2 separate regions of the Homo sapiens genome follow, and region 1 is linked to region 2. Evidence: fine-mapped expression QTL. Tissue or cell type: whole blood. Region 2 holds a variant in brackets; the other region holds the start of a gene. All regions are shown on one strand. Distances are from middle to middle.

Evidence for each region. PIP is the estimated chance that this variant, and not a neighbour inherited with it, causes the effect.
Region 1: it holds the start of NHLRC3, and the variant in region 2 is fine-mapped to the expression of NHLRC3 in whole blood (TOPMed, PIP above 0.99).

The regions. Positions count from the first base shown.
Region 1 is chr13:39,031,149-39,042,629 of GRCh38, reverse strand. NHLRC3 (NHL repeat containing 3) reads right to left here and starts at 4,174. Exons shown (of 7, transcript NM_001012754.4): 1 at 3,907-4,174; 2 at 3,342-3,494; 3 at 2,919-3,066; 4 at 325-525. The coding sequence starts at 3,990. PROSER1 (proline and serine rich 1) reads left to right here and starts at 4,541. Exons shown (of 13, transcript NM_025138.5): 1 at 4,541-5,432; 2 at 8,434-8,499; 3 at 10,999-11,067. The coding sequence starts at 5,388. RefSeq lists a silencer at 4,831-5,060 and an enhancer at 6,203-6,312.
Region 2 is chr13:38,990,521-39,002,001 of GRCh38, reverse strand. It overlaps STOML3 (stomatin like 3), which reads left to right and starts at 11,171. Exons shown (of 7, transcript NM_145286.3): 1 at 11,171-11,332. The coding sequence starts at 11,281. The variant T/G (reference allele first, on the strand shown) is at 4,811.

The DNA of each region.
Region 1 (11,481 bases), 41 kb before region 2:
TGAGTCTGGGATTCTAGGTTTCTAATTTCTACATGCTTAATTAAATAGGATACACACTTATCTCCTGAGCCCACTAGAAATTCTCATACTGTTGCCAGTTACTTTTGGAGGAATCTCCTGGCCTTTGGTGAAGAATAAGTGGGCCTGTTATCAGGATCATTTATTGTGGGCAATCATACCCATCTGTTTTTCAGTTTTCTCGTAGTAATACACTTAGCTCTTTACACACCGCTTCATACACAACACTTAAAACATTATACCAAATATCGAACAAATTAAAATCAATTTATAATATTTTTATAATACCATAAACAAGTAATGTACCTTGGGACAGTTTGATCAATCTGTTATTCAATCCTCCATCTCCATCCACAATGTAAATATCTCCTGTGTCCTCTACATATAATTCTGCTGGGTTATCAAACTGCAAAGGATTCAAACTAGTGCCTTTTTTGCCTGGAGTACCCAAGACTTGAACAAGATCACCAAAAGAACTGTATTTTTTAACAGTATGACCAAAGAATCCTATAAAGATAGATATGTACATCTCACAAATAAAACCACTATACAAACATTCAGATTTTTCAAGTAAGCTAAGAGCAAAAATTTGATAGAAGTAAATAATAACAAATAGGTGATAGGCTTAGGAAATTACATATAATTGACAAGCACTATAGCTTCTTCGTAAATTACAGCCAAATTTGATCACGAATTAAAATCTCCATTAGTCCAAAATAAGCGGATTCTAAATTCAAATAAATAACATCCCCATAATTGACTCATTATACAGGAAACTCAGAATGCTAACAAAGTATTGGTGCACCATTTTCTTTTTTAATCTTATGACCTTGAATAAGCATTGCTTATGAAAGGAAATCAAGAAGAAAATGTAAAGGGAACAACTTATATTTGAAACTGTTATTTCAATCACTCACATACAGACCTTAAATTTCAGTAAGTCAACAAAAACGTTCTCTATGGTACAGATTTTTTTTTTAACTGCATTTTCACCTTGTGGAGACATTCAAAATTCAACCCAACTTTTCTTTGCTAAGAAGAAAATAATCTTTGTAAATCATGAGTATCTTATTTTCTCACGTTAAAATTTCTTTAAGTTAAAATTATCTTACAAGCAAGAGCATAAAGCAGACTACTAATAAGGGAATATCATAAAGCAGTGAACAGAAATCAATTTGAAGGTACATATGCCAAATTAATTGATAGGTATTCAAAAGACAAACTGGATACATTGAGCTTACCAGAAAGAAAGTGAATCAGCTTGCATTACAATTCTATGTTAAATAATTTATTTACTATTACACTTTTAGACAGTTGAGCTAAAGTTCATAGCAATAAAAAACACATAAGCCTCCAAGTTTCTAAAAACTAGCAAAAAAGACTACCAATAAAAAATTTTCTCAAAAAAAAAAGGCTAATTTGTAGCCATATTTTTCATTAGAGGAAATTTATTCCTTTGGGAAATGGGAATATAAAACTGTCTTCAGATCTCTGGGTAGAAAATTAGCTGTAATGGAAAAAATGAAGAGATCGTCTGTGCTCTTTTTATTTCTGGGAATCAAGGAAGTCTTATTTTTAAAAATCACATGAATAAAATGAACTCAAAGAAATGGTCTTTAACAGTGGATCTTCAGGAAAAAAGTGAAAATAGACTCTCATTATAGTATTAACAATTCACTCAGTGATAATCTATAGACTTTTTTTGGTTGAACCAGATTCATACTATGTAAAACACAGCATGAAATAAATGGGCCATCAGCTGAGGCCCAGAAATCTTATGGGTTCTGAGAACAGCTGTGATAATGGCACTACTTACAGAAACTGAGAACTCATTATCTCTAAAAAATGGTATCTGAATCAGCCAGGACTGTAGAACCAGGATGTCTCTCAATTCAAGAACATAACTGGGCCAAGGAATACTAGAAATAATGTCTTTATAATCCCATTTCTTCCTGAATTCCTAGGGTAATGCCAGGATATCTCAGGTATTGCCTTGTCTTAAGCTACAGCCACAGGTGAATTGTTTCTCTGAAAACTTTCTCCATAGCTGCACATTCAGTTGTGCTCACTTCATTTTTCAGCTTTTTCTACTAAAAATATTTGATGGCAGGAAGATTTCAGACATGCTTCAGTCAGTAGAATTTCAAAAACATTAACAACAGTTTCTGCAATCTTTGCACTTTGAGCAACAAAGCAGTTACGATTTCACAATCTTTTATGAAAGAAAACTGGAAAAGGAAAATAAGAGTCAAGGATTCCAGTCATTGCTTTCAGAGACTGCCACTTTATTTGGCTTCAGTTTAGAGTTATTTAATCTGAGAAGAGCAACTGATGCTTTAAAGAGGAAAAGACCCTAGACAAGTTCAAGGAAAGATCATATTAACAGGCTCCTTGTCAAATTTCTTTCTTTTTTTTTTTTTTTTTGAGACAGAGTGTCGCTGTGTCACCCAGGCTGGAGTGCAGTGGCGCGATCTCGGCTCACTGCAAGCTCCGCCTCCCGGGTTCACGCCATTCTCCTGCCTCAGCCTCCCCAGTAGCTGCGACTAAAGGCGCCCGCCACCACGCCTGGCTGATTTTTTTTTTTTTTTTTTGTATTTTTAGTGGAGACGGGGGTTTCACCGTGTTGGCCAGGATCGTCTCGATCTCCTGACCTCGTGATCCGCCCGCCTCGGCCTCCCAAAGTGCTGGGATTACAGGCGTGAGCCACGGCGTCCAGCCCTTGTTAAATTTCTTAATTCCACAGAAGTACAAAATAAAGTTTGTTAAAAACATGTGATTTCATGAATCGTTAAAGAAATTACAATTAGATTCAGCAACTCTGATTTTAAACAATACAAACAAGGACATGTGCAAAGATGTGATTTCCAGTAAGATAATTTAATAGATATTACTATACATACCACTTCCTACATCCGTGATCCAGACGGATTGTTCATATAGAGTACTGGCTGCAAATATACCATGAGGTGTGTCAACTGTATAATTCCAGGCTCGTAGGAAATATCCATCCTCTGTGAACACTAATATCTTTGGGATGTTATCCCCTCTCTGAAGGTATACAAAAAATAACTTCTTAGGATCAGCTTAAAGGAAAGGTAATCTGTATCTTGGCGAAGAAAAAAAATAACTGAGAATTTTACTACAAAAACCACTTTCAAAATCTAACATATCTTTCACATTCGAAACCAAAATACTTGAGACCAACTCAAAAATAAATTGCACAATTAGCATGATATAAACGCATATGGTCAGTTACTACAGCAAGACAGGAAGGCTGTTACTTCCTTTGTGTTCATAATTTTTTTAAATCTCTATTTACTTACTTGACCTATGTAAACCAATCCATTGAGGGAGTCAACTGCAACACAAAATGTTGTTCCGGTAAAATATTCTGGGTGCTTAGGCCAACCCACATCCAGCCGGTAAAGAATTTTCTCAGTTCTCCAGGAAACTGCAAAAGTAAAGTTCCTCAAAACCTTAAACAAAATCAGACAATTCAGATTTAGTTTACCGTCTAGGTAAGAACAAAAAAAGGGCGGGGGGGCCGGGTAACAGGGCTTATTTTTAAGCATGCCTTGACAACTAGAAGTTTGCTGGACTGAAATAATTCCAAAGAAATGAGCTTAGATGCCTAAAGACCAACACGACCACAATACAAGTCTGCAAATTATTTGAGGATGTAGTAAGAGTTGGGAAAGAGGAAAATGGCGATGTAACATACACAAATTTTTAAACTCAAAGGGTCAAGGCAGTTTGGACCCAGGTGCAGGCTTTGAGACAAGCTACTGAGGGAACCAGGGCCTGCCACCTCCATGCCACGACCGTGGCGACGCCTCCCAACAGGGCTACCCGCACACCCGACAGTCATTTCCTCACTACCCAACTCACTGGAGAGCCACAAAAACGCGAATGCAAAACCAAAAATGCAAGAAAGAAGCCAGCACCGGCTACGCAGACCCAGAATCTCGCCATGACCAGACGGGAAGCCAGGAGAGGGAGGGTCCGCAGGTGTCTGGGGGAGGACCTGACAGCCTCAGGCTGCAACGGTTTGCAGCGGCACAGAGGGTCTGCCCGGGGCCCGAAGACCCTATCTCCGGTTTCCCCTCCCTGGATGCACGAGCTTTGAGTACGAAAGGGAACAGAGACCAGGGCGAATGAAAATCACAGAAGACCAGTTCCGGACTTCGTGTGCATTTCGGGGTCCCCGCCCTCATGTCAGGTGCTTCGGGCTGACCCAGTGACCACCCTTTCCCGCCCTCAGGGCAGTCCGCGCCGCTGACTTTCAGTGGCCACCAAAGTATGGGCGCCCGTAGATATGCCTTAATCGCTCGCCATTTATTCTTTTTAATCCAGAGGGCAAAATCAAAACATCGCACACTCAGACACGAGGTATGGTGGGGATGACATTCAAAATAATGACCGCTAGGCTTCGGGAAGGATTTTTGCCACATCCTATTCCTACCATCCAGGCATCCGCTATGGATGCCTATATTCCCACACCAGGACCCCACCTCTGGCTTTCAGGAAAGAGGGGCCCAAGCTGGCGGCGCAGTGTTGAGTTTACTTGGGCGCGACTGGCTTTATTGTAGGTCCCCATGAGCTGGTGGGGGCTGTAGGGGTAACCAGGCAGGGCGTCTGGCGCTGTTGGGGCTGCGTTTTTCCGGAGTCCCCCTATGCGAGGCCGTGCCCCTCTTCGCCCGGCTCCTGGTGCTCCCCAGCCGCCGGCCCGCTCCCGGAAGCTGCAGCAGCTGGTAACAAAGAGCCTGCCGGGCCGCCTGCTGCCGGGGCCGAGGTATCCAGGAGTCGGGCGGAGCGGCTGGGGATGAGCGCGAGCCGGACCATGCGTCCGGGTTCGCGGCGGTGAGGGTCGCGGCCGGCGGCCGAGGCGCAGGTGCGGGTCGAGAGACCGGCGCCTCCCTCCCCGCCGCCCGTGGACTCTGAGCGCAGGTGTTTCTACTCTGCCGGCCGCTCCACCTGGGAAAGCGCCTTCAAGAGCTACCTCTGGCGGCACCTGGCCCTCAGCTGCAGGGAAACCGCACTCAAACCTGCCGCCGAGCCCGGGTTTTTCTGCAAAACTCAGAGGACCTGGCTCTTGCCCGAGGTGCCCTGAACCATTGTGTGAATAAGCTGGGGAAGCCTGACTGGAGTGTTTTTTCTTTTTAATAAAAAGAGTTTTTCTGAATCTCAATTTTTAGAAATTTTTTTTGCGAAGTTTGCAATACTCTCTACCTCTTCGCATCCTCTCTTGCTCGTGGAGTCTTTTTCCTCCTCAGCTATAAATATTTTTTACTATCGGCGGAGCAGACCAGGGATGAACGTCTTTTAATTGCAAGTATAACTGTTAAAACCACGTCGGGATAGTAGTCAAGATGGATAAAAAGTCCTTTGAAATGGTGCTGGATGAAATTAGAAAGGTAATTAGACCGATTCCATGAATTATTTTATGAGATGAATTCTCGTGTTTTAGACTCTCTTTGAGGTACTGTATGGAGATTGTGCAGAATAAGGGTCCTAGGATTGCCAAATTGGTTTGAATTTTCACGTGTAATGGAGGAGTTTATATCTTGATACGTTTCCAGTACAAATAGAAATTAAGTTACGTTAACGCCAAATTTGAGACTCAGCACGGTGTCGTGGGAATTACATTTGTAAAGCCCTCGGTTCCAAAGCCGGCTTTACAAATCCGTAATAGCTCTGTACTTTTTGGGTAAGGGGTTTAATATTTTTGAGTTTATTGCCTCATCTTTCAGTAACACAAGAGTGACTGAAAACGAGAGGTAATACGCAGAAAGTTTCTTTTATGGTAGTTATTATGATGGGGTTTTCAAATCTAAGCATAAGGTAGAGTATATTTGTTGCGTTGGCCATGCAAAATTCGTGTCCTGATGGTAAGTGTGGCATTAAGTTTAAAGTCACGTTCTTAGGAATTGGCCGTCAATAACTTGAGCTTCAAAACTTTTTTCTCCTGCTTTCCAAGTTTTTGCTGCTTTTTGAGGCTGTTGTGTGGATCGCATTTCCCAGAGTGAACCAGACAGCAACAATTCTGGAAGGTAGTCTTGAGCCTAACAATATCTCAAGCACAAAAATACCGAGAAGTTACTTATTTTAAAATGTAAGGACTTGATGTACCATTGTTACATCAACACACGGTGCTTTCCTTCGGCCTTCCGGGCAATTATTCTTTCGTCAGCTGCATACCTTTACGACCCTTGACTGAAACGGAAGAAATTGTTGCCATGTGCTCTGGTGCTTATTTCAGTTTACAAAGCTATTATTAAAATTGTCTCTGGTCTTGCTGTTTTGCTTTGTTTTTATACAGCTTTTTTCTTTTTTCAAATTGACGTGTTTAAGTTTTCATATTTGATAATACTGAACATTCTTTTTTGAACAAGTTCTGCTTTTGCAAACCTAAGTGTCCAATTAATTTTTGAAATAAAATATTGGTTTGCTAATTATATGCCTAGAAATTTGTCACAATTTGTTCTTGGGCTGATTTTTAATTACTTTTCATGAGAAAATAATTGGTGAGTCCAAGTAGACCAGCAGATTTTTACTTTTGGAAGATACAGGGTCTCAGTGTGCATATTCTCTTCCTGGTGTCATAAAAACGTCACAGTAAATTCTAAAGAGGGGAATAGGAAATTTTCCAGATATGAAAGTGTTGTTCACATGAGATGGCAACTTAAGTCTGTATTTCTGGTCAGCAGTTAAAATATATCTTCTGCTGGCTTTGCCGAGTGATTAGACACATCAACATTGTCATGGTCTATTAAAATGGAATAAAATATTGGCATATCTAAATATGAGCATTACTACTGATTTTCTTAAAAATCGTTCTTTGTAAATGTAAGTCAGTTTAAACCAGGTCATCTCTTGAGTATCACAGTGAGTTTATATGATAGATAATACTGATTGTCACTACTGTCATTTAAAACAGAGGCATATAAGAAGCCACTAGCAGAAGAACTGGGAAAGGGAGTAGAAAGGGGGAAAAAGCAATGGTTAACTGATTATTCAAAAAGGAGGGAATGATAGCTATTAATTAGTGAGCACTTACTTTGTGAGCCTGTTTTTAAGCACTTTCTCCAGTCATTATTTGTTTTGATTCTCCTTACAACGCATGAGGTGTAGGCACTGTACTTCTTGCTTATAGCTGGTGGCCTATTCTCTGTGAGGTTAACTATCAGCTCAAGACTCCCTAGGTGGTAAGTTGGGGGCTGGGGGCAGTATTCAAACTATGCTTGCAGAGCACCATGCTGTCCTGCCTGGGGTTACAGCTGGGCCTCTCAGGCATTGATGGAAGAATTGAGATATGACTTGGCATCAGTACAATCCAAGACTTTGTTCAGAAACTTGTATTTGACTGTGTCCGATTATTACATTGATAATAAAACTCCTAGGAATACATTATTTAGAATGCCATTTTCTCCCTTTTCAGTGAATATTGAACTACTGAGCACCCAGGATATTTCAGTTGACTGGTCATAATACTTTCTCCTAGCAGAATGATATATGTGAAAAATATGAATATTAAAATTATTTTATAGTACAAGCAAAGGGATTAGTTCATTTTTAATGATTAGTGGCTACTGACTTAAGATAGCTGTTTCCATCTCTAAGCTGAGCAAATAGCTGCAAGGGGAGCATGTGTGATTTAGTGGGCTCTAGATAGTGCTGCATCAAAGCCACCAACTTCTCTCTCACCCACTGATAGATTCCGAAAAGGAAAGGAACCATCACTTACTGAATACCTGTTATATGTCACATCTAATGTCCACTATTATAGTCTTCATAGTAATTCTTTGAGGTTGGTGAATGGTGTTCCCTCTATGAATGAGGACGCTCAAAAGGAATTAAAATGCCTCTCAAAGTCTACACTGCCAGTTAGTGGCAGGCACAGACATTGAATTCAGGACTTCTTGCATTCTTATGTCCCTATAGAAATACTGAGAGCCTCAACTAGACCTTGTCTTATTCTTGCTTCTCTGTCACTTAGCACATAGTAGATATTCAATAATTGATGAATGAGTAACATCTGATATGTTTAATCTTAAAAATGACAATTTGGATTTGGAATGTTTTGAAACTCTTTAATTACATATTTAGGAATTCTAAATGTTGTGTATACTGATGTTGAATCATATCTATTACAATTTTATTCCCTTTCTTTGTAGAAGTTGGTAGGGAAGCCCAGCAGATCTTCCTGCTTGCTCAGTGTGTCCCTCACAGTATGGAACCTGGAAAGATGGAAGGAAGGGCCTCTCACCACAGTGACCTTAGTTCCTCTGAATGACAGGGCTGAAGTAGACCTGCCACTGTTGAGTTGCTTGGGCAGTTTTGATAGATGTATATTACTGTGCTGCTTACGTATATTAATGCTGTTTTACTCTGTGTGTGTGTGTTTTTTTTTTTTAGGCTGTTTTGACAGAATACAAATTAAAAGCAATTGAATATGTGCATGGATACTTTTCTAGTGAACAGGTATTCCTCATTATTTGTTTAAACAAAGCTTTCTTTTTATACCAATGTTCTGGTTAATGTCTGTCTGCTGGCCGAATTCAGAATTGGTTTTACCTTTTTGCTGTATTTATTCAAGAACTCGAGAAGCTCTCAGTTTTGGCAGAAAACTCTACAGAATTTATAATTCAGGGACTAAGCACCTCTCCACTTTCACCCCAATTCATGTTTTAAAATGATTTTAAATATAGGGTCTTAAAGCAATTCAAAGTGTTTATGGTTCTGGGCACAATATCAAAGATTTAGAGACTCGTAATGGCAAATTTACCCAAATTTTTATAGTTACATGTAAGACAATTACAAAATTCGTCATGTAATATAAAAGAAAATGTGAACAAATAATGAAATATGTTTTTATATGAAGCCACTAAATAAAAATTTCAACAGTAAGAAAAATACACAGTGTTATTTAATAAGTAGTTTCTGTAACTGCCAGAATACTAACATTTTAAGCATGATAGTTTAGTGAAAACTTCATTCCACCTTAGGGGCAGTTTGCTAATTAAAATATATGTGTGTCACACACACAAGGGGGCATGTTTCTGAGGGATAGTTGGAAAATTCTTGATAGAGAAGTCAGGCATAAATATTAATAGAAATGTCTGGAGAACAGCTTGGGGAAAGGATGGACAATAAATGTATATATTGAGTTAGTAAATGCTCCAATTGAGTTAGTAAATGGTCCAGCTTTTCATTGGTTTCTCAAGAACTTCAAAACTTGAAACCTTAAATGACTTTTAAGCCTATAGAAGTTCTGCCCACTAAATTCTTAAAAGCTACTTTATGATTTGCATTTGTTGTCTTTATGTCAGTTTTTCAGCTTTCCCATTGCTTTACAAAGTTACTTTATGCTCTTTTAAAAATTTAAATGTTTTGGCTGGGTGCAGTGGCTCACACCTGTAGTCCCAGCACTTTGGGAGGCCAAGGCAGGCGGATCACTTGAGGTCAGGAGTTCAAGACCAGACTGGCCAACATGGCAAAACCCCATCTCTACAAAAATACAAAAATGAGCCGGGCATGATGGCGGGTGCCTGTAATCCCAGCTGTTCAGGAGGCTGAGGCTGGAGAATTGCTTGAACCCAGGAGGCAGAGCTTGCAGTGAGCCAAGATCGCGCCATTGCGCTCCAGCCTGGCTAACAGAGCAAAACTCTGTCTCAAAAAAAAAAAAAAAATTAAATGTTTTAAAAAGATATATAATTTCTTACAGCTAATAGCATTTTTTTTCTTGGGTGTATGTGATGTACCACCCTTAATGATGCTTCCACTTTGCTAAAGTCATTACAAAGTTTATTAAGCCACTTTCTAAATGAGCTTATTGTATTAAAGATTTTTCTTTGTATCTTAGATATGGTGGCTTGTAAAATTTTATGGTTGGTTAAAATATAGCATTTATTAGATATTAAGAACATTATTCCCATCAAAGTTAAGGACATAGACGTTTATCAAATTAACTGGAAAGTATACATAATACTTATTTGCTATATATATATATCTCTTTATAAGGAGTAAAAATTATTTTTACTCTCTTTACATACCACTCCAGTTTGCACCATTGACCTTGCTGTATAGAATAATTGGAACCTTAGCGTATTTTCAGGAACTGTCTTCTTGTATCACTTTTTTCCCCTTTTGGAGCATCTTTGGAGGCAGTCAAACAGGGTGGTGGTGATCATGCTGAGACTTCAGTGTCCTGATCTTTATGCCCTGTGCTCCCCTCTTACTGGCTATCTCATAATGCTTCCCTCATTTGTTTGAAGTTCTTAGGTGGTGGTGGGAGCTAATCTGAGCTGCACACTCTGAGCTCTCAAATGATGTATCATTTAGGGGCTGCTGGAGTAATTCATGTTGACTCTTAACATTTTTAAGGGACTAGATTTATGATTTGAGTTTATGCCCTCCAGATTCAAGTTAAAGGACCTACTAGGACTAAAGTTAGTGGACCTACACTAAAACATACCACTGTGCCTTTGTGAGTGCTGTTCTCCCCTCGTGTTGAAAGGTTTTCCATTCACAGTCCATCTTTATAATCCTGAGCTGACATTTGATCTCCATCTAGTACTTCTCAACCATCCTTTTCCTATTAGGATACTTTGTTTTTTTCTGTATTGTATATTTTTCTTTCTTTCTAGACCAGTGCTGTCTAGTAGAACTTTTTGTGGTGGTAGAAATGTTCTCTATCTGCAGTGTGCATTATTGTAGTTATCAGCCTCACATAGCTCTGGAGCACTTGAAATGTAGCTTGTGTCACTAAGGAACTGATTTTTACATTTTATTTGACTTTAAGTTATTTAAATGTATATAACTATATAATAGCTATTCTGTTAGCACAGTTTTTAAACTTTAATGCCACCTGTATCACCTGGGCCTGGGCTGCACGTGTCGAATTATAATTTCAAGTACTGAAATCTTATAGAAATGTTTGCAAACATGCTGTCATTAGAGCTGTTAGTTCTTTGTTTTCAGGTGGTTGATTTGCTGAGATATTTTTCCTGGGCCGAGCCCCAGTTGAAGGCAATGAAAGCATTACAGCATGTAAGTAACTTATTTTTTCCTTCAGAACGTAGAATTTAAGTATTTTTAATTCTCCCAGTTGTGTGTAATTTATTTCAGTTGTAATTTATTTGCATTAGAAAAGCGAACTCTATGTGTTATTGTACTTTGATTCAAAATAGCTATGTTAAAAAATTAAAATTTTCTAAACTGTACATTTAAATTGTATGCTACAGTGTCCCGATTGGCAAGTTAGAAGAAAACTTCACCAGCAAGCAAAATATAGGATTTGAATTCTTAATGGTTTTTTGCACTTCTGTTTTTTAATATCCATCGTCACCATCTTTCTATTTAGTCTTAGAAGAGTTATTACTGTCCAAATAAATTTTCAGCGATGATGGAAATTTTTATATCAGCACTGTCCATTGTGGTAGCCACTTGAATGTGCCTCATCTG
Region 2 (11,481 bases):
GATTAAAGATTTAAACGTTAGACCTAAAACCATAAAAACCCTAGAAGAAAACCTAGGCATTACCATTCAGGACATAGGCATGGGCAAGGACTTCATGTCCAAAACACCAAAAGCAAGGACTTCATGTCCAAAACACCAAAAGCAATGGCAACAAAAGCCAAAATTGACAAATGGGATCTAATTAAACTAAAGAGTTTCTGCACAGCAAAAGAAACTACCATCAGAGTGAACAGGCAACCTACAACATGGGAGAAAATTTTCGCAACCTACTCATCTGACAAAGGGCTAATATCCAGAATCCACAATGAACTCAAACAAATTTACAAGAAAAAAACAAACAACCCCATCAAAAAGTGGGCGAAGGACATGAACAGACACTTCTCAAAAGAAGACATTTATGCAGCCAAAAAACACATGAAAAAATGCTCATCATCACTGGCCATCAGAGAAATGCAAATCAAAACCACTATGAGATATCATCTCACACCAGTTAGAATGGCAATCATTAAAAAGTCAGGAAACAACAGGTGCTGGAGAGGATGTGGAGAAATAGGAACACTTTTACAATGTTGGTGGGACTGTAAACTAGTTCAACCATTGTGGAAGTCAGTGTGGCGATTCCTCAGGGATCTAGAACTAGAAATACCATTTGACCCAGCCATCCCATTACTGGGTATATACCCAAATGACTATAAATCATGCTGCTATAAAGACACATGCACACGTATGTTTATTGCAGCATTATTCACAGTAGCAAAGACTTGGAACCAACCCAAATGTCCAACAATGATAGACTGGATTAAGAAAATGTGGCACATATACACCATGGAATACTATGCAGCCATAAAAAATGATGAGTTCATATCCTTTGTAGGGACATGGATGAAATTGGAAATCATCATTCTCAGTAAACTATCGCAAGAACAAAAAACCAAACACCGTATATTCTCACTCATAGGTGGGAATTGAACAATGAGATCACATGGACACATGAAGGGGAATACCACACTCTGGGGACTGTGGTGGGGTCGGGGGAGGGGGGAGGGATAGCATTGGGAGATATACCTAAGGCTAGATGACGAGTTAGTGGGTGCAGCGCACCAGCATGGCACATGTATACATATGTAACTAACCTGCACAATGTGCACATGTACCCTAAAACTTAAAGTATAATAAAAAAAAAACCTTCCAAGTAAAAGAAATCTATGATAGTATTTATGGCATACTTTATTTTTAACTATGAAATGCTAGAAATACCCCTTTAAAAGCAGATGTCAATCAAGGAAAGTAATTCAGCATTGTATCAGACATCGTAGCAAGTGTAGTAAGGTACAAAAAAAGTAAAAAGTGTAAGGATTGGAAAGGAAGATATATAAAGCAGACAATATTCAGAGGTGACAAATTATTTGAATTAATAAAGCTTAGTGAGATTCAGATTCATTATATTCAAAGGTCAGTTGCATTTTCAAACATGAGCAACAGTATCAATAGCATGCTCTTTTCTTTTAGTTTTGGTTTTTCTTTTTTGAGGCAGAGTCTCCCTCTGTCACCTAGGCTGGAGTGTAGTGAAGTGATCACAGCTCACTGCAGCCTGGACCTCCCTGGGTCAGGTAATCTTCCCACCTCAGCCTCTTGAGTAGCTGGCACTACAGGTGCACACCACCATGGCTGACTGATTTTATTTATTTATTTATTTTTGTATTTTTTGTAGAGAAATGGTTTTGCCATGTTGCCCAGGCTAGTCTTGAAATCCTGGGCTCAGGCAATCCACCCACCTTGTCCTCCCAAAGTGCTGAGATTACAGGCATGAGCCACCATGCCTGGCTAGTATGCTCTTTTCAAAAGAAGAAAATGGTGACATGTCACCTAGTAACAAATCCTACAAAAGATGAGTAATAATTTTACGGTGAATTTGTTTTTAAACTTCATAAGCATCATTAAAGAAAACCTACTTAGGCCAGGTGCAGTGGCTCACGCCTGTAATGCCAGCACTTTGGGAGGCTGAGGCAGGCGGATCACAAGGTCAGGAGATCTAGACCATCTTGGCTAACACGGTGAAACCCCGTCTCTACTAAAAAAATACAAAAAAAAAATTAGCTGGGCATGGTGGCAGGGACCTGTAGTCCCAGCTACTTGGGAGGCTGAGGCAGGAGAATGGTGGGAACCCAGGAGGCGGAGCTTGCAGTGAGCCGAGATTGCGCCATTGCACTCCAGCCTGGGCAACAGAGCAAGACTCCATCTCAAGAAAAAAAAAAAAAAAGAAAACCTACTTAAATGGAGAATACACAGTGATCATATTTATGAATCATAGCCTTAGAATATAAAATCTCTCAGTCTCCAAATTTCACACCATTCCAATCAAAATCCCAACGTTTTAAATAAGTTTTATGAACTTATTCTAAAATGTATGGGTGACCAGAGGGTGAAAAATAGCCAAAATTCTTCTGAAGAGAATGAATAAAGTAGAAGGACTTTCTCCACTAATTATCAAGGCTTGATATTTCAGTCTTCAAGACCTTAGGAAGGGAAGGATTTTTAAACAAGGCACACCAAGCATTAAATATATTGAAATTTTATATATTTGATATCAAACACATCATTAAAAAGGTGAAAAAATAAGTGACAACTGGAAAAATATATTTGCCACTTATGTGCTGTCAAGTATCAAATATTCATAAGTACATATAATGTATAAAGTGTATATACACGCCCACACATTGTGTAGGTGTGCATATATTTATATACATGTTGAATATCCCTAATCCAAAAATCAGAAAATCTGAAATCTGAAACACTCCAAAATCCAAAACTTTGAGCACCAACATGACACCACAAGTGCACTCTTTCACACCTGGTCTCATGGACAGGTCACAGTCAGAATCCAGGCACACAATGCAGTTTATTCAGCATCTGCAAGGGGAAAAAGACCTTCCCAGCCTTTTTCAGCTACGACGTTATCTTTTCCGTGCATCCTGAGTCCCCACTCAAACATACCCCCACAAAGGGTGATAAAAATAGCACATGTGCAGGCCAGACACACTGAAGGCAGGCTCTCTATCATGCCCCACATGAAGCCAAGTCCTGTGGACATGACTCACTTATTCTCTGCTCTGTGGTGTAAAGATACCATGAAAATGTCAAAAAGACCTGTAGACACCCTTATAAGTAATAAGAAAATAAGGAAGCACTTATGTTTATCTATAGTTTGATAGAAAACCAAGCTGTTGGAGGAACTGGACAGTGGCATAAGTGTGGTATATCTTTCAGAAGAGTATGTCATTGGAATGACCACCATATATGGCCTGCAGAAACAGAAGGATAAACTGTTGAAGTTCTATGCTAAAAGTGATGAACAGAAGTGAATCAAAAATAGAAAAACACTACATACAGCTAAAAATGAAGATCTCAATTGTGTATTGGAAGAGTTGATTCATCAGTGTTACAGTAAACATATGTTGCTTAATGGTATGCTGATCATGAAACAAGCAAAGATTGATCATGATAAACTGAAAATTAACGGGAACCATGAATACGCGACAGGCTGGTTGCAGAAATTTAACACAAGACATGGCATTGCATTTTTAAACCTTTGTGGTGATAAGGCATCTACTGGTCACAGGTCAGTGAAGAAATTCATTAATGAATTTGTCAGGGTCATCACCGATCAAAATCTGATGCCAAAACAAGTCTATGCTGCTGATGAACATCACTGTTTTGTCCTTACTGCCCTGGAAAGACACTGACTACAGCTGATGAGGCAGCCCCTACAGGCATTAAGGATGCCAAGGACAGAATATCTGTGCTGAGATGTGCTAATGCAGCAGACACACATAAGGGTACACTTGCTGTGATAGGCAAAAGCCTGCATCCCTGGCTGTTTCCAAGAAATTAATTTCTTACCTGTCCATTATTCTGACAAAAAAAAAAAAGTCATGGACAATCAGGGACTGCTTTTCTGACTGGCTTCACAGACATTTTATATCAGCAGCTCTTGCTCACTGCAAGGAAGCTAGGCTGGATGATGACCACAAGAATTTTTTATTCCTTGATAGCTATTCTGCTCATTCTCCAAATGAAATTCTCATCAAAAATGTTTATGTCATGTACTTTCCCCAAAATGTGACTTCATTAACTCATTAGCTATGTGACCAGAGCATTCTTAGATAAACGAAGAGTGAAAGTGAGAACACTTTCTTGACCAGTATGCTAGCAGCAGTGAATGGAGGCTATGCGTGTGGAAGGTTTTCAACGTGGTTTTGTCATGACAGGTACCATATATGCTGTTGTGTTCTCTTGAAACACAGAACTAAGGCCACAGTGGTACACGCCTGGCACAGCCTCTGGCCTGTGACTACATTCAATGAAGGTGACGAACAAGATGGAGACTTCGAAGGATTCCACATGTCAAATGAGAAAAAAAAAAGTCTGACCTCCTTATATATGCAAAAAAAATTATTTCAGAGTCTATCAATAAACGGGAAGAAATTGATATTAAAGAAGTTTGTACCTTCAATAATGAGGCTCCAGTTGTTTATTCATTGGTGGATTGTGAAATAGCCAAAATGATTTTGAATCAAGGTGATCGTGATATTAGTGATGATGAAGATGATGTTAATACTGCAAAAAAGTGCCTCTAGACAACATGATGAAAATGTGTGATGGGCTTAGTGAAGGAGTAGAGCAGCATGCATTTATAACAGAACAGGAAATAATGTAAGTTTATAAAATCCAAGAGAGACATCTAAGACAAAAACTGTTGTTAATGAGGCAGATGACTCTGGAGGAAATCGTTTAAAAGGCCTTCCAGCAG[T/G]ATGTCTCCTCATCCCTAGAGGGCCCATGCTTCTGATGTTTCTTCCCACCTAAAAAAAATAAAATACAGTCTATTGTAGCCTTTTAATCGAAACACAAACACAGCATCATAGCTAGAGGCTGAAAGCCTGCCGTTGTTTGCTTGTTGTTGCTGCTGTTTAACAGCTGAGCCAGGTATTCTGGTGATGCTGCTGTGCTGCTACACACATTATTTTTTCACTGTGTTAACGGGGTGTCATAGCTTTTATTGTTAAGTACTTATGTGTGAATAAGCATAAGAAAATGATTGCTTATTGGTAGCGTAGAAATTCAGTCAAGAATGATGATCATGCCAAAAAACCACAGACTGTCCACATGAGTTCAATGTACACAAACTTTGTTCCATATAAAATTATTAAGTCTTGTACAAAGTTGCCTTCGGGCTACGTGTATAAGGCGTATATGAAACATAAATGAATTGAATGCTTAGATTTGGGTGCCAACCCCCAAGATATCTCATGTATACGCAAATATTCTAAAATCCAAAATCTGAAACACTTCTAAGTCCTATGCATTTTGGATAAGAAGTACTCGACATGTATATAGCAAGTATATATAAAGACTACTTATTAAATTTGCAAGAAGAAGCCCAAAATAGGAGCAAAGGGCATGTATGTGCAACTCACAAAGGAGAAAACACAAATTGTAAATAACCATGTGTAACTTGTTCTGCCTTATTAAAACTCCGAGAAATCTAAAGTCAGATTATAATGAAATGCTATTTTACACTGACCAGATAGTCAAGTATGAACAAGTGCCATCAATGATTTGGAACAAAAGGAATACTTGTACACGACTAGTAAGATTAAATTGACATAAACTACTTTGGAAAATATTTTTACAAAGTTGTTTACAATAATCTTGTAAAGTTGAACATAAAATATAACAGTTTCATCTCAAGATGTATATATCTGGATTTTAGGGCCTTAGAGAAACTCTTGCATGTATACACAACCAGAAGATATGTACAAAACATTCATGATAGTATCATTTGTAATAATGAAAACCTAAAAGTATCCAAATAAATAAGTGAACTGTGGCCCGTTTACACTTCTATGTCTTAAATAGCACTAAAAATTAAAGAGCAATAGCTTCCTGCAACATAATATGGAATGTCAAAGGAAATTGCAGAGCACTCATGAGTTTTTTTTTTTTTTTTTTTTTTGAGATGGAGTCTCACTCTGTTGCCAGGCTGGAGTGCAGTGGCAAAATCTTGGCTCACTGCAACCTCTGACTCCCCGGTTCAAGTGATTCTCCTGCCTCAGCCTCCTGAGTAGCTGGGATTACAGGCACACGCCACCATGCCCAGCTAATTCCTGTATTTTTAGTAGAGACGAGGTTTCACCATGTTGGCCAGGATGGTCTCGATCTCCTGACCTCGTGATCCACCCGCCTCGGCCTCCCAAAGTGGTGGGATTACAGGCATGAGCCACCGCCCCCAGCCTACATGGGTATTTTTTAAAAAGGCAAAAGCAAAACTAAATCATAAGTGTTTTAGAAATGTAAATATATAATTTAAAAGGTTCTATTTTAAAAGCAAGAGAATAATCAACAAAATTATAAATTACGGTTTTAGAGAGGTGAGGATGAGACCCAGGAGGAATATGCAAGTAGTTTCAATGGTATTGGTAATATTCTAGTGGTGCTGTTGTGTGGTATATTGATGGTTGTTTACTTTATTCAATAAATACATACATGTTAAATATATCAACAGTATTCCATAATACAAACGCCTTAATTCAATAGATTTCGTTCTAACGTATAGAATATTTAATTGGGGGACGTCCAGGTAGAGATGTTTCGTCAGCCGATAGTTAAAAATATTTATTATTCTGAAGAGAGGTATAAGCCAGATTTGCAGCTTGGGGAGTTATCACTATAAATATCTTTACAGATTTGGAGACCGAATTTCTCATTTTAAAATGTGAGAATTCGGCAGGGCGCGGCTCACGCCTGTAATCCCAGCACTTTGGGAGGCCGAGGTGGGTGGATTGCCTGAGGTCAGGAGTTCGAGACCAGTCTGGCCAACATGGTGAAACCCCGTGTCTACTAAAAATACATAAAAATTAGCCGGGCGTGGCGGCGTGCATCTGTAATCCCAGCTACTTGGGAGGCTGAGGCAGGGGAATTGCTTGAACCAGGAAGGCAGAGGTTGCAGTGAGCCGAGTTTGGGCCACTGCACTCCAGCCTAGGTGACAGAGCGTGAGACTCCATCTCAAAAAAAAAAAAGAAAAAAAAAAGTGGGAATTCAAGAATGGAATAAATGAGAATGGATAAGTTAGAATGTATGATGTATATTCGTAAAAAAGTTAAAGAGATCAGAGAATTTCAATTTAAAGAAAAGGGCATGTTTTCTTAAGAGAGCAGCCACTGTCCTGGAACACCTGGATACATCTTAGCAAGAAAGGATGGTGGGTGATGTCTGAAACCAGAAGCTTAGGAAAGGAAATAGGTGGAAGTTTAGAAAGGATTGTCTCAAGAGAGGGTTTGTGCTATAAGGTGAACATTCAGGGAAAAAAATATATACATACTTAAGGACACATGTCCTGTATGTCAAGAGTGGGAATAGAATTAGGCCTTTTAAAAACATAGCTGTCTTCAGCCAGGGTCATTGGCTCATGCCTGTAATCCCAGCACTTTGGAAGGCTGAGTTGGGTGGATCGCTTGAGGCCTGGAGTTCAAGATGAGCCTGGGCAACATGGCAAAACCCCATCTCTACTAAAAACACAAAACTTAGCTGGGCGTGGTGGCACATGACTGTAATCCCAGCTACTTGGGAGGCTGAGGCATCAGAGAATCGCTTGACCCCTGGCACAGGGGGAGCGGAGGTTGCAGTGAGCCGAGATTGCACCACTGCACTCCAGGCTGCGTGACAGAGAGACTCCATCTCAAAAAAAATAAATAAATAAATAAAATAAAAAGCTGTCCTCATCTCAGTACTTTCACTAGTGCAGAAATTGATAAAATGAAAATGCAGAAACACTGAAAAGTCTTCATCCGAAGCATCTTCCAGAAATTCCCGTATCCTCCTTTCCCAGGATAAGTGAAAGAACATCCACAGATGATAATAATTCATCCACTGGGCTAATTTATATTTTACAGAAAAAGAAGTAGGAAACTTGAAAATGAGCTCATGTTTCATTTCCTGAGGCCCTGCTATGAGGATTCAGTTTGTCATAGGTGTTCATTGCTTGCTGAAACCCTTCTTGCTTTCTAGGCTGAGACATTTGAAACTTTCTTTAGGAAAAAGAAAAACAGTTGCTTAGTCATCTTCCAAAGGGATGGACCATAGCAAGCACTCTTGAGGCTCTTTGTAGTGGCTCCCAGGGAATAATTATTGTTTCTGTTGCTTTGAACCTTCCACCTCAGTGACTGGCAGTGCTAGCATAAATGGTATTTGGCTAATATTAAGAGAAAATGTATTTAGAAATAAGCTAAACTAGCACCTCCAGAACACTTTGCTGTATGACTATGGAGAAGCATCTGACTCAAAGGGAAAGGGGCTTTCAGTTCCAGGCAAAGATTGTCTTTGGCTTAAGTCGGGAGAAATGATGGAAACAGGAAGTTTTTCTGTTGCTCTTTCCATGAGAGGTTAGTTACAAAGTGATGATGACATGGTGATAAAGTAGAGGCCGGAAGAAACGGGATGGCAATTATATGACAATACAGACCAGGAATGGGCCTCGAGTTTTTAAGGTAGCATTAGATCAGAGAGAGAAGAGAGTTGATAAATGTATGGACATACCAAATCAATCTCTATCAGTCTTCCTTTCACTTGAAATTAGGGGACAAGGGAGACATTGTGAAAATTAGCCCAATCTTGCCATTGTAGAGAGAAGTTAACTCAGTCCTTAGAAATACAGCCCAGCTTCCATTCATGGTAATAATAGTTACCATTTATTAATGTTAGTCATTATTCTGAATATTTTACATGTAATTTTCATAAGATTCTCATACAGGCAACTCTCTTTGGTAAATATTATATTACCATCCCCATTTTACAGATGAGAAAAATAAAACACAGAGGTTAAATAGCTTACCCAATGTCACACACTAGTTCATGACAGAGCAAAGTTTTCTTTGTATCTGGGCAGTATGAGCCCAGAGCCTTCTCTCCTGCCCACTGTGCCTCCAGCAACATTTCTACTTGGAGCTGTAAGCGAGGATGTTTAAGGGAGGTGCAGAGAAAACTATCCTAGAGCAGACAGTTGCTGACTCTGCACACATTATGCATGTCTGTTTTAATCTGTGTTCTTGTCTCCTTTCCTAAATTTCTAAAACTCTGTATTAATTATTGTAATTACAAACTGTGGATGACAGCCATAGTAGTTATTTCCACAATTTGAGTTTGTGGAAAAGGCAATCAAGATTATCAAGTAGTTGGTATAAATAACCCATAACCTGGAAAATTTTTTACTTTTGTTTTTTTCTTTTTTGAGTTGGGGTCTCGCTGTGTCACCCAGGCTGGAGTGCAGTGGAGCCATCTTGACTCACTGTAACCTCTGCTTCCCAAGCTCAATCAATCTTCCCACTTCAACCTCCAGTGTAGCTAGGACTATAGGTGCATGCCACCATGCCTGGTTAATTTTTGTATTTTTAGTAGAGATGGGGTTTTACCATGTTGCCCAGGCTGGAATCTGAGAAAAGTTTTAAGATGAAGTTGCAAAGAAGGAAATAACTAGGTGGTTGGCAGAAGAAAAACCAGAAAAGACAAGAAGGCCAGGGAGAGATTAGAGATTTTTTCTACTGTTTTCACAAAATAATACAATATAATATAATAAATGCCATACAATAAATATAATGGTATACAAAAGAAAAACAAGATATATTTGGGATATTGATATGAGAGAAATGAACATCAGAAAATTAGAAAATTGGTGTTCTTAGTATTGGAATAACCACAAAATTGTCTGTGGTTCTATGTGGTCTGATGAAAGAAGGAATCCTAGTACAGGATCCTAAGGATCTGGATTTGAGAAAGAGCTTTGCCATTTGAGAGCTGTTTTCATTTGTGATTTATATATTCATTCATTCAGCAAGTATTGTTGAACATCAATCATGTGCCCACGTTGTTCTAATTGTTGCAGATGCAATGGAAATGTTAGACCAAGTCACTCTCCTCATGGAAATGTATAGTGCAAGGCAGGGGTCAGCAAACTTTTTTTGTGAAGGGACAAACAGTAAATATTTTAGGCCTTACAGCTTGTATGGTCTGTGTCACAACTACTCAAATCCACGGGTGCAGTGCAAAAGTGAGCACAGACAATACAAAAATGAAAGAGCTGGGCATGGTGGCTCATATCTACAATCCCAGCAGTTTGGGAGACCAAGGCTGAAGGATCATTTGAGCCCAGAGTTTGAGACCAGCCTGGGCAATATAGTGAGGCCCCATCTCTAAAAAAAAAAAAAATTAAAAATTAGCCAGGTATGGTGGTGTGCACCTGGAGTCCCAGCTGTTGAAGAGGCTGAGGTAGGAAGATTGCTTGAGCCTGGCAGGTCGAGATTGCAGTGAGCTGTGATTGTGCCACTGCACTCCAGCCTGGGCAACAGAGTGAAATCCTATCTCAAAAAAAAAAAAAAAAAAAAGAAAGCAACAAAAGGACATACTGTGTTCCAATAACACTTTATGTTTTAAAAACAAGTGGTAAATTAAATTTAGCTGGCAAGCTAAAGTTTGTCAATTCTTGGTCTAGAAGAAGAAACAGACACAAGCCAAAAAATTATGCATATGATAACACGTGCAAAGATCCGGTGGCGAGAAGACATATCAAGCTTTGGAGGCACTGATAGGAGACCAATGGAGCTGCTTCACGGAGAGACACATGAGTGAGGCTGGAAAGGGAGGAAGGGGCAGGCCAGCAGGGTCTTGTAGGACACTTAGGAGTTTGGTCTTTACAATATTGACAGTTGGCAATTTTTTGATTATTTTAAGCAGGATGAAGACATGATCAGATTTGAGTTTCAAAAGCTCACTCACTGCAGTGTTAGAATGAGTTGGGTTAAATTTTCTCATCTGAAACATAAGGATGGATACACTTGCCCTGTGTATTGAACAGGTCATTGTGTAATCAGTGATCACACAAGATTTATACAAGGTGCATAGAAGTGTTTTATGAAATATAAATGCTATAGAAAATTACACAGCAATATTTTACAGGAAGCAATACCACCAGATGGTCATATTCTTTCAAGTTTTTTCTGTGAACAAAGGCAGTCTGAACTCATAAAAGAAATCTTTTTGTTTATGTTATCAGGCTTCCCTCACCAGGGTAACTACCCCTTAGGGAGTTCACTAAAGAGAAGGAATGTCTTTCACTCTCTCATACTTTCTCCTCTCCCCTCTCCCAAGCACATCTGAGTTGCTGCCTGTTCTTCACACTTAGCTCCAAACCCATGAAAAATTGCCAAGTATAAAAGCTTCTCAAGAATGAGATGGATTCTAGGGTGTCTTCACCTGAGAAGCAAGATAAAGAGAATTTCGTGGGTAAGTTCCTTTTTCCTGTCTTAGGCTTGTTTTTTACATATATGGCAAAGCAGGAGTTGTAGCATTATAGACAGGTATAGAGTAAGTATGAGATATATTTGCAGAAATCGGCCTCAATTTCATTTATAGCCCAGGATTTTGAATTCATT